2 separate regions of the Homo sapiens genome follow, and region 2 is linked to region 1. The links come from fine-mapping of genetic effects on gene expression. A gene starts in region 1. The other region holds a variant in brackets. All regions are shown on one strand. Distances are from middle to middle.

What was found.
Region 2: its variant is fine-mapped to the expression of SYNDIG1 in pancreatic islets (PISA, PIP 0.95).

What each region holds. Positions count from the first base shown.
Region 1 is chr20:24,467,185-24,472,561 of GRCh38, reverse strand. It overlaps SYNDIG1 (synapse differentiation inducing 1), which reads right to left and starts at 2,933. Exons shown (of 4, transcript NM_024893.3): 1 at 2,809-2,933.
Region 2 is chr20:24,618,895-24,624,271 of GRCh38, reverse strand. The region is part of intron 3 of SYNDIG1 (synapse differentiation inducing 1); the gene reads right to left. Among named protein-coding and RNA genes, the nearest start is that of SYNDIG1, 150 kb to the right of the region's middle. The variant T/G (reference allele first, on the strand shown) is at 2,965.

The sequences.
Region 1 (5,377 bases):
GAATAGCACCGACTAGTGCCTCAGATAGAAATCTTACATAAGAAAACAACTTTCTATTCTCTGATAATAGTAATAACTCCCTAGAAAATACGATTTAAAATTAATGAGAAAAATAACTCAAGTCTGGTAGAGCACTTTTAATTTATCTCAATGCTAAATGTGGAAGAAATTAATTGCTTATAATTTTTGAACTGAGTTTTAAAGTTTTTATCAAAAAAAATTCTCTTGCCTATCATGGCTCAACCAGAATCGTGTTCACGCCCTTCATGAATTAGAATGAGTCTGTTCCTATTGCTAACATATCTGTCTTCCCAGGATCCGGACTTGTCTTTCCTTCTTCAATATCTCACCCCTGTACGCCTCAAGTAAAGTTGGCAGGTTTTCCTTTTCTACCCTAAAATGGGAATGGAGGGGGCCTTCATTTTTATTTTAATATCACCTATACTCTAATGGGGTTATTAAAAACTGACATTTCTGATAGGTGAACATAAAATGAAATGTCATCAGCTGGAGATACAGAGGGATGTGTTTAGAGGTGAAGTGAGTTTGGAATGGTTTTTTTATTTTTTTGAAGTTTACATCAAAGTGATTTTGTATTTTTACTGAATTGGTTTATTTTATCAGATATTAACAAATTATAATTGTGTATGTTTATGGGGTACAAAATGATGCTGTGATATGCGTATACAATGTGTCATGACTGAATGGAGCTAATTAACCTACTATCCAATACTTAGCATTTTGGAATGAGTTTTGAAATACTTCATCAAACAAGGCTTCCAAAACTCTGTGGCCTCCAAAACTCTACCAAAGGTAACTGCAGGTGGTGACTGGGTGGGGGGTACACAAAGCTTCAGTGCTATTCTCTGTCTGTCACTGTGTACAACTGAAATTTTCCATAATAAAAAAGTTTAAAAATAGGTTTCTCCATCTTTTCTTTCCTTTTTTTTTTTTTTTTTAACAAGGCCCTCTTGATTATGAGGATTCCGTTTTCAGGCAGGAAATGGGGACAGGGTGAGAGAGGGCGCCGATCAGCTACTGTCAGGCTTGCTCCTTGCAAAGGGGCGGGCGGTGGAGAGAGAGGGGAGGGAGGAATTAAGGGGATCGCGCTTCCTCAGGGCCCACAGGCCTCATACCTGTGGTGTGGACCTCCAAAAGAACGGGCCACACCACCGCCAAACACAGAGCACGCAATTCAACTAAAAATTCGACTTCAGTTTCTTCCTGTCCGCGCCAGAACGGACATCAGACTGCCCCCCGCCCGCCTCCTAGCAGCTCCTTTTCACTTCGGCTGCTGCCAGGATTTCGCGACCTAGACCCCTCTTTGAAGACCACTTCCGATCCCCGACGCGGCAGCCCTTGAGGTCGCAGCCTAGCACGGAGAAGTTGGCCGGCTCTGGGGGCTATGAGGCTGCTCACCCCACAGGCGCAGGTCTACGCAGCACACACACCACCTCCTTCTTTGGACTCAGACCAAACACGCTGGGCTGTAGGAGGGAGACGGACAGATACACGGACTCGCGCGCGCACGCCTCACCAACTGATTCCAACCAGAAAACGGAGCCACTGTGTAACGCCCAGCCCCCCTCCCCTCGACACCCCCAATCAGCCAAGCCTTCGGCCGGTGTCTGCTGCACTAAACACCAGGACGTGGCCAGGGAAGGCGCAGGCATCGGTCCGAGCCAGGAGCGCCGCGGCGCCAGCGCATCTGACGTCGCAGGAGGACTGTGCGCACCTGAAGTCTGGGTGCCAAGCGCCCAAGCCTCTGCGTGCAACGAAACCCCCAAAGGAAAACAGGACTACCAGAAGACCCCTTCCTCTCGTCTTTCAGAAACGCCAAGCGGCCCCTCTGGCCGCCTCCTCAAAGCTCGGCTGCCAGAGCCACTCTAGTAGGGTCTTGCAAAAAGCGCATAGGGACAAAGCCCCTTCCCTAAGAAAAGTGCCCAACTCATCCAGTGAGCCATTCCTTCCTCCTCACTGCCCAGAGAGTGCACATGAAGAGGCAGAAATCACGACTAGGAAAAAGCGAGATTCAAATTGGAACCAAAAAAGCGTATGTGCTCGCTCCCATCTCGGCGCCAGGGCTGTGGCTCCCAGGGCTGCAGGCTGTCGCGGCTGCCAGGGGCCAGACAGCTTTTGAAGGCAGGTCTTGTCCTGGCTAGAGGAAAGAGGCTCCAGGAGTCTCTGCTTCCGCCACGGTCGCCCGTCGGGATTCCCCATCCCAAGCGCGCTTGCACCTTGCCTGCCGCTCCGCTCGGAGAATTAGTCTGTTTCCCTTCCTACTCCCAAACAGACCTAGGTCCCCAGCTCCGTGGCCGCCCGGCTCACCAGCCCTGGCTGGTCTCCTTCGGGTCACTCCGAGGGGCAGCCCGAACCCGCAGAGCCTTGGCCCGCCGCGCGCCCTCATGGCCCTGCTGGGCAGCCTGGCTCCGCTACGCTCTCAGTTCTCGGTCTCACCAGCTCCCATCGAATTCGCACAGCAGCCCCTTCGCGTCTCCCGGGGTGGCAAGGCACCAAGGTGCAGCCCAGGCCAGCATCGACCCCTTCCTGGGCATTTTCTCTGCCGGCTCAGCTCCCCCTCCCGCCCTGCGACCCCGTGTCTCCCAAGTCTCGTCGCGGCGACCACCCGGACTTACCGCGGGCGCCACGCCGCCGCCGGGTCTGCGCGCTCCGAGGCGGAGCCAGGACTAGGACACCCGCCAGCGCAGGGCAGCCTCCAGCTCCCGCCGCCAGCTCGCGGCCCCTGCCGCGACCCCGCCCACTGCGGGCCCCTCCGCCCGCCCCCGCGGCCGGGAGGTCTGGACTTACCTCCGGGACAAGGTGACCCGGCAAGTGCGCCCAAGCGGCCGCCCGCGACTCTCCCGAGCGAGCGAGCGTGCGGGGCGGTGCGGCGCCCGCCTCTGCTCCTCCGCTGCCAGGCTCTCTCCTCCTCTGCCCTCCCCTCAGCGCCGCTCTGCTCCCCACGCCTCTCCCCGCCCTGCGCTCTCCGCCTGCGCCCCCGGCTGCCCCGAGCGCCGGGCGCGGGGCAGCGGCGGCAGCCCGAGCGGCGGGGAGTCGGGAGCTGCGGCGCCGGGGCGGAGCCCAACCCTCTCGGCCCCCGGGAGAGGAAGGGGTGCGGGGAGACTCTCGTCGCGCTCGCCTGGCCGGCAGGCTGGGCGAGGGGCGCCCTGGGGCGAGCCGCTCCTCTTCGCTTGCCGAGCCTGCCGACGCGCGTGCTGGAGGCAGCGGGCGCGGGCCCCGGGGGAGGAGGGCAGGGAAGAGAAGGAGGGCGCAGCCCGCGCGAAGGTGGCCACCAACTTTGGCCCAGACCAGGGAGGCCCTAGCGGGGGATCGCGTCCAGATGGTGGCCCGCGGCCAGTGTCTGACAATGTGAGGGCCACAGAGGCTGGGGGCGGGGGATAGCTGCGGGGGACTAGGAGGACAGGAATTTGCTGCCCGACTAGAGGAAGGGATGGCTCCCCTCGGTCCTAAAGGCCTCCCCAGGCTGCGGTTCGGTTTTGAGGTTAAAAATGACCCAATTTATGGATCCGGCGAATGTTCAAGTCCTGACCAGCTAAGCCCTGGAGGAGCAAGCGGGCGCGGAGTTCAGACTCCAGAGACCCCCTCAGCCCTGAGCCAGCCTGTTGTTGGCCCATGGCGGGCCCGCCCCAGTTGGAATTGGAAGGAAACTAGGGCGGTGGTAAGACAGTCTGCGTTCTAGGAGCGGAGGAGGTGGTGTTTGCAGTGTAGATTTCATAGAGAATCAACTCTGAAAAAAAGATTTACCAGAAAGGGGGTCAAAAGTTATTTAGAAAAGCATCTGTGCGCCCCCGTTTCAACACTAGGCAGAGGCCCCAGTCCTGCCACCCGCAGGCTGGTACACTGGTGGTCAGAGAAGGTTAAGCTCCAGAGTTCCATGGCTCCCAACCTTCCTAGAGCCCTCCCTCCTGCCTGGTAACCCACCATTGCGCTGCGTCTTGCCCAGGTGTCCTGGTGGGCAGGGGCAGGAGTTAAAGGTGGTGCCAGGAACAAGAGGTCCTTCCTATATTCCTTTCAGGGGACGTGGCTTCTAGGGAGCCTCCGCAGCCCAAAGAGAATGCTGAAATGCAGAGTGCCAGAAGGAGGCATTTGAAGGAGGCGCGGATGAGTGGAACCAGTACTATCACCTGAATTCCATCCCCGTCTTCATGTCTGCAGCCCCGCGAGACACACCTGATGTTTCTTCCTTTAGGTCCCCAGAGCTGCAAGGCTGTGGTCTGGAACACTCAGAAACGGGCACTGTTCATTTCTCCCATCTAGCAGAACTTCTCAACTTGGAAGAACATGCCACCACACTTTAATAAAGCAGCTTACCTTTCCGGAGTCCTTTCCTGAATAAAGCAGTTTCCCATCTAAGCCATTAGGTTGAGCAGATACTATTAGACCCATTTGAGGTGGAGAGTCATTGATCCCATTTATCAAATGAAGAAATTGAAGTTTAAAAAGGGTAATTGAGATTGTGTAGCCACCCAATGTGCAGGAGTAGCCTGAAGCTCGGGTTCCCTGCCTCTAAGTCACTGCTCTTTCACTTGCCCAGCCTCTGGATTGACTTTTGAGGCAGATTTTGTTTTGACGAGAGAACACCTGCCTGGGCTGCAGCCAGGACTCGCCTTTGTCTCCTGGGTGCTGTTTGAATTTAATCGCGCCACTGCATTCCAGCCTGGGCGACAGAGTGAGACTCCGTCTCAAAAAAAAAAAAAAAAAAGAAAGAAACAGAAGGTGGACTCTTCCCCCATGACACACACACACACACACACACACACACACACACATCTTTCTGTAATTCAAAGGGGCCTTACACTTCATTTCAAAAGAAACTCACAGGGCCAGGACGTGTATGTAAAGAAACAGATGTCACCCACTCCTGGCAGATGCAGCAGCTCATTAAGGGCTCCTGGTGGGAAGCTCAGTTGCCCAGCACACGATGGGCAGTTTCTCTTACCTGTGATTCCCTTGTTGTGGCTTGAAATATTATCTGGTATGCTGTGATATAGCATTGAAATAAAGACTTTCAAGAAAGTCAGTGAGGAGCTGTCACATATTAGGCAATGGGGCACAGTAGAAATTGCCAAGTCTCTTGGAAACTGGGGTAACCTTCTCAACAATGCTTATCTCTCAGAGGATGTTACAGAACTTTCAGAGCTAAGAGAGGTCTGTGGGCCACCTCCTGTGCTGGGAAGAACTGTCACTCAGGCACCGAGCAAGCTGCCACACCTTCCAGCCAACATTTTTTTTTAACTTTCAACTTTTGTTTTAAGTTCAGGGGTACGTGTGCAGGATGTGCAGTTTTGTTACATAGGTAAATGTGTTTTTTGAGACAGAGTGTTGTCCTGTGGCCCAGGCTGCAGTGCACTGGCAC
Region 2 (5,377 bases), 150 kb before region 1:
TTTTTTTTTTTTTTTTGAGATGGAGTCTCATTCTGTCACCCGGGCTGGATTGCAGTGGCAGGATCTCGGCTCATTGCAAGCTCCACCTCCCGGGTTCATGCCATTCTTCTGCCTCCCAAGTAGCTGGGACTACAGGCACCCACCACCACACTCAGCTATTTTTTTGCATTTTTAGTAGAGATGGGGTTTCACCATGTTAGCTAGGATGGTCTTGATCTCCTGACTTCGTGATTCGTCGGCCTTGGCCTCCCAAAGTGCTGGGATTACAGGTGTGAGCCACCGCACCCAGCCAGTTGGGTCTCATTTTTAAAACTCCAGTTTGACAGTCTGTCTTTTAAATGTCATATATAACTGATAATTAATACAGTCAGATTAATGGTTGCCATCTTTGTAAGGTTGTTGGATTTGTTCTGGTTTTTTCCCCCTCTTTTTCAGAATCTTCTAGTTTCAACTGAACATTTTACATGATTCCATTTAATCTCCTCTACTGACTTATTATTTATACTTCTTTTTTAATATATAGTTTAGTGCCCAGGGTTCATAGTATACATCTTAAACTAATCTAAATTTACCCTCGAATAATACCATACTGCTCCATGTGTCGTGCGGGTACCTCACAACAGAGTATTTGTCAATGCCCTTCTCATTTCTTGGGATGCTGTTTTCGTTTTTCACTTGAACACATGCTCTAATCACCAAAGCCAGCATCACTATTTTTGCTTTTAATGGATAGTATCTTTTAGATAAATTATGAGTAAGAAAAACAAAATATTTTATTTCACTTCTAGTTATTCTTTTTTGCTGTACTTTTTTTCTTTATGTAGATCCAAATTTCTGACCTGTAACATTTTCCTTCTGTTTGAAGAATTTCCTTGCTATTTCTTATAGACTTCAGACCTGCTGGCAATGAATTCCATCAGCTGTTTATCTGAGATAGTTTCTATTTTATCCTTGACTTTTGAGGGATATTCTTACTGAATATGCAATTCTAACTTGCCAGTATTTTTTCTTTATTTGTTTCTTCAGATCTTTAAAGATTACAGTCAACTGCATTCTTAGTTGCACAGTCTCTTTTTTCTTTTCTTTTTTTTTTTTGACGGAGTCTTGCTCTGTCACCCAAGCTGGAGTGCAGGGGCATGATCTCAGCTCACTGCAACCTCCGACTCCTATGTTCAAGCAATTCTCCTGTCTCAGTCTCCCGAGTAGCTCAGATTACAGAGTTGCACAGTTTCTGATGAGAAGTCTGCAGTAGTTTTAATCCTTGTTTCTCTAAAGAGAATGTCCTCATTCTTTTCAGATGTATTCAAGATTTTCTCTTTGGTTTCAATTTTCTATGGTTTAAACAGGATATATCTCAGTTACTTTTGGTTGTTGTTGGTTTGTTTTTGTTTTTTGTTCTAATTCTGCTTGATGTTTTCTAAGATTCTTAAGACAGTGGCTTGGTGTCTATGACTAATATTGGAATATTCTTGGCCATGATTTTAAAAAATATTTCTTGTTTCTTCTTCTGGTATTCCAATTTTCATATGTTACACTAGTGGTTGCCAACCTTTTTGGCACCAGGGACCAATTTCATGGAAAACAATTTTTCCACGGATCAGTGCAGAGGGGATGGTTTCGGGATGAAACTGTTCCATCTCAGGTCATCAGGCATTAGATTCTCATAAGGAGCATGCAACCTAGATTCCACACATGTGCAGTTCATAATACGGTTTGCATTCCTATGAGAATCTAATGCCACCAGTGATCTGACAGGAGGCAGAGCTCAGGTGGTAATGCTTGCTCACCAGCCACTCACCTCCTGCTGTGTGGCCCAGTTTCTAACAGGCCATGGACCAGTACTGGTCTGTGGCCTGGAGGTTGGAGACCCCTGTGTTACACTATTTTGTATTGTTCCACATTCCTGGATTTCCTGTCCTGCTCTGTTTTATTTTCCATCCTTTTTTTCTTTGTGTTTCAGTTTGGGTCATTTCCTTTCACCTATCCTCAAGGTCACTGATTCTTCAGCCATGTCAAATCTACATATGAGCCCAATAAAAAATTATTCATTTCTTTGTCTGTTTTGTATTACTGGCATTTCTTTTCATCTTTCTGCTGACATCCATTTTCTTATGTGTTGTCTACCTCTTCCATCAACGTCTTTCACATATTGATCATAATTGTTTTAAATTACATGTCTGATAATTCCAACATCTGAGTCATATTTGAGTTTGGTTCTGATGATTATTTTGTCTCATCAGTGTTCTCTTGACTTTTGGCCTGCCTTGTAATATTATGTTGAAATATAGACATATGGTATAGAGCAGAAGATACTGAGTTAAATAAGACTTTCAAGTGAGAATTGATGTTAATTTGGCCAGGAGTTGAAGTGTATTCAATGTTTGGTGTAGATTTAGGTGTCAGAAACTTCTAATGTCCTTATTTTTGCCTCTTCTCTTGGCATTTGGATTCCCTTATATATGGCACCTAAGTCAGAGTATATGTCTTGTGGTTTTTCAAGCTCAACTCATGGTTATTATACTGGAAGCTCATTCACATGGTGGTAGGGCATAGGGAAGGACATGTTCTCTGATCTGATCAAGTATCATTCTTTGGAGTGCATAGTTGGCCTGGGGTGCACTCCAGAAAAGGGTATGACTTTCAAATCTTTCTGTCCCTTCCCAGGGTAGAGTTTTCCCCCAAAAAAAGGATGCCACTGCTTCAGATACTAATACAGGGGAAGAAATGAGACCCAGCAGACACATCAGCACATGGGTTTGGGACCAAATGGCAAAAGAGTTATTTAAAAATATGAATAAGCAGAGTGTAAACTTAGAAATTCAGTATTTCAGCAAATCTGAAATAATACATTTTGCAAATGGCCACTTAACAAGAGAGAATGCCAAATTGGTGTTTACCATGTGCTAAGCCAACCAACTGAAACCTTCAAAGTGCAATGCACTTATGATGTGATAAGTTATTTAC[T/G]TAAGTAGCAAAAGTAAATAGATAAGCTTTCCCAACACTTTGTTTTTAGAATAACAAGTGAGATGCATGTGGAAGATTAGCAAATGCTTTAAGGTTGCTCTCTTTTGTTGAGACAGTTTCTATTCCTTTCTTGTACACATACAAAACATCAGGCTGCAGATATTTGATGGAATATGCTAACTTAGCTTATTTTTTAACACTCTTAAAATATTTAATGCTATCATTTAGCATTATCAACATAATGCTGTTTACTTTGCCCACTGAAGATTCACAAGATTCTTAGCCCTTTTATCTCCATCAGGTAATGTGTTTATCATCATTGCTTTGTATGCCAACGGGCACCTGAGAGGTTATAATAGCATCTCAGTCAAATTGCCTTTTACCTTTTACTGAAATAATGCCATGAACTTATAAGAACTGACAGAAGGCATTTTAGGTCAAAGAGATTTTGTTAATTTGATATATTGATTTGAATAAAGTATTTAGGAAAACAATTGTTCCGTCATTATTCATTTTCCTATGAACCTATTAATACAAATACGTTATGTGTATAGTTTTCTTTCATCCTTGGAAATACAGCTGTGGCAGACTATATAGTCCCAAAATAGCAGCTGCAATTTTTCCCATCCCTTATAATCTTCCAGAGCCTTGACATCTATGTCTCCTCCTATGAATGCCTTGACCAGTACAGTCCAGTACAAGTGATGCTGCCTAGCTTTGAAGGTTGGATCATAACCAGATCTTGTGCTCCACCTTGATGTAGGACGTTTGCTTGAGGAAGCCAGCTGCCGTGTTGTGAGGAAGCTCAAATTAGCCTATGTGCAGAAACCACATGGAAAGGCAATGAGATGGGCCTCCTATGGATGGCTTGTTTAAAGTCCCTGCAAACAGCCAGCACTGATGACCAAATGTGGGAGTAAAGACACCTCCAGATGTTTCCTCCTAGCTGTCAGGTCACCCCCCAGCCTTGGGTCTTCCTAGCTGAGGTCCCAGACATCATGGTGCAGAGACAAACCATCCTCATGCTGCTTCTTGAACTCCCAACCAAAGAAATCATGAGCATAATGAAAAAGTTGTTTATGCCACCATGTATGGGTAGCAGCAATAAATAGATCAGTGTTGTAAATACAATTTTGAGGTTTATCAGAAAACAGGGATCTGGAGTTGTGTATAAAATACTTTCCTTTAAAACTGATAAGAATCACATAGATTGTGGCTTGAAGGTTGCAGGAACTGACACAAAGTTGTCCTGAAGAAGAATTTACCTTCTCCTGTAGGGTCTTAGGGAAGCTCTCCAGGGTGGCCAGGATTTTGAACCTCTTTAGCTGAGTCCATATTTAAACTCCCACGGCCTCAGTTTCCTCATGTGCAGAACTCCACAACATGCCTTGCATCATGCAGGGTCTGAACTTGGAAGCCTCTGCATCACCCTTTCTCTCCCTCAATGCCACTCAAATGGAAGATACAGAACCCTGATTTTGCACATGAAAGTTAGGCTGGGTCATGCCACATGGGGTCTGGGATACAGTATGTTCTGGTCACTAAAAGATGACTTTCCTTTAATGGCTGGAGCTTTGTTGTCTAATAACATCATGAAGATAATGTAGTCAGTCTGGGCTATGCTATTATATAGTGGCAACACTACATTTATCTTAATTATAAACATTAAAAATAAATACAATGTATAGCAAGGTTCTTGAATTATGTGTGTGCATGCACTTGCAAATGCATGCTCTTGTTTATGTCACATAAATACCAGCTCCCCTGAGAATCATCTACGAACAGGAACATGAGGATGGCAGACTTGTCTCTCTTATCACTTTGCAAATATTGAGAAGTGAAACAAGACTGAAGTAGTGTTGTACAAGTGATTGGCTACCCTCCAGCTCCTTTCATAACAGCAACATTTAAAGAGAACAGACTTGATGATGACAATGACCAGTGGGCCCAGGAGGAATGGCCCTGGGTCCCCACTCTTCAGAAAAGCTGCAGTGAAGGCCTTAGGAGCTTATGTGGACACACTGCGCAGCCAGTCCAGATCCTTGTTATGCACCCGATTAAAGGATCCTTGAGGTGTAACACTAGTCAAGTTTGGCTGAGGGCTGAGGGTTCCACTAAGTCAGACACACAGGCTTAACATAGGCATTTTCATTTTTCCAGCATTTAAAACAATGAGATAGACTCAAGACCACAGCTTTTCTTTAACCCTTTTGGCAGTTTTAAATTCCAGGAGGCTTCAACACTCCTGCCCTGCAAAAGAGACTGTAAACCTCAGTCTTCTCATATAAGAGCAGGAGGTTCTACAGAGGCCATACCTGGAAGAAAACAGGTGCGTTTTGTCTCCCTCTATATTATTTGATGATATTTTTTGCTGTTGTTGCAATTAAGGAAATACAAGCCCTAATGCCCTGGT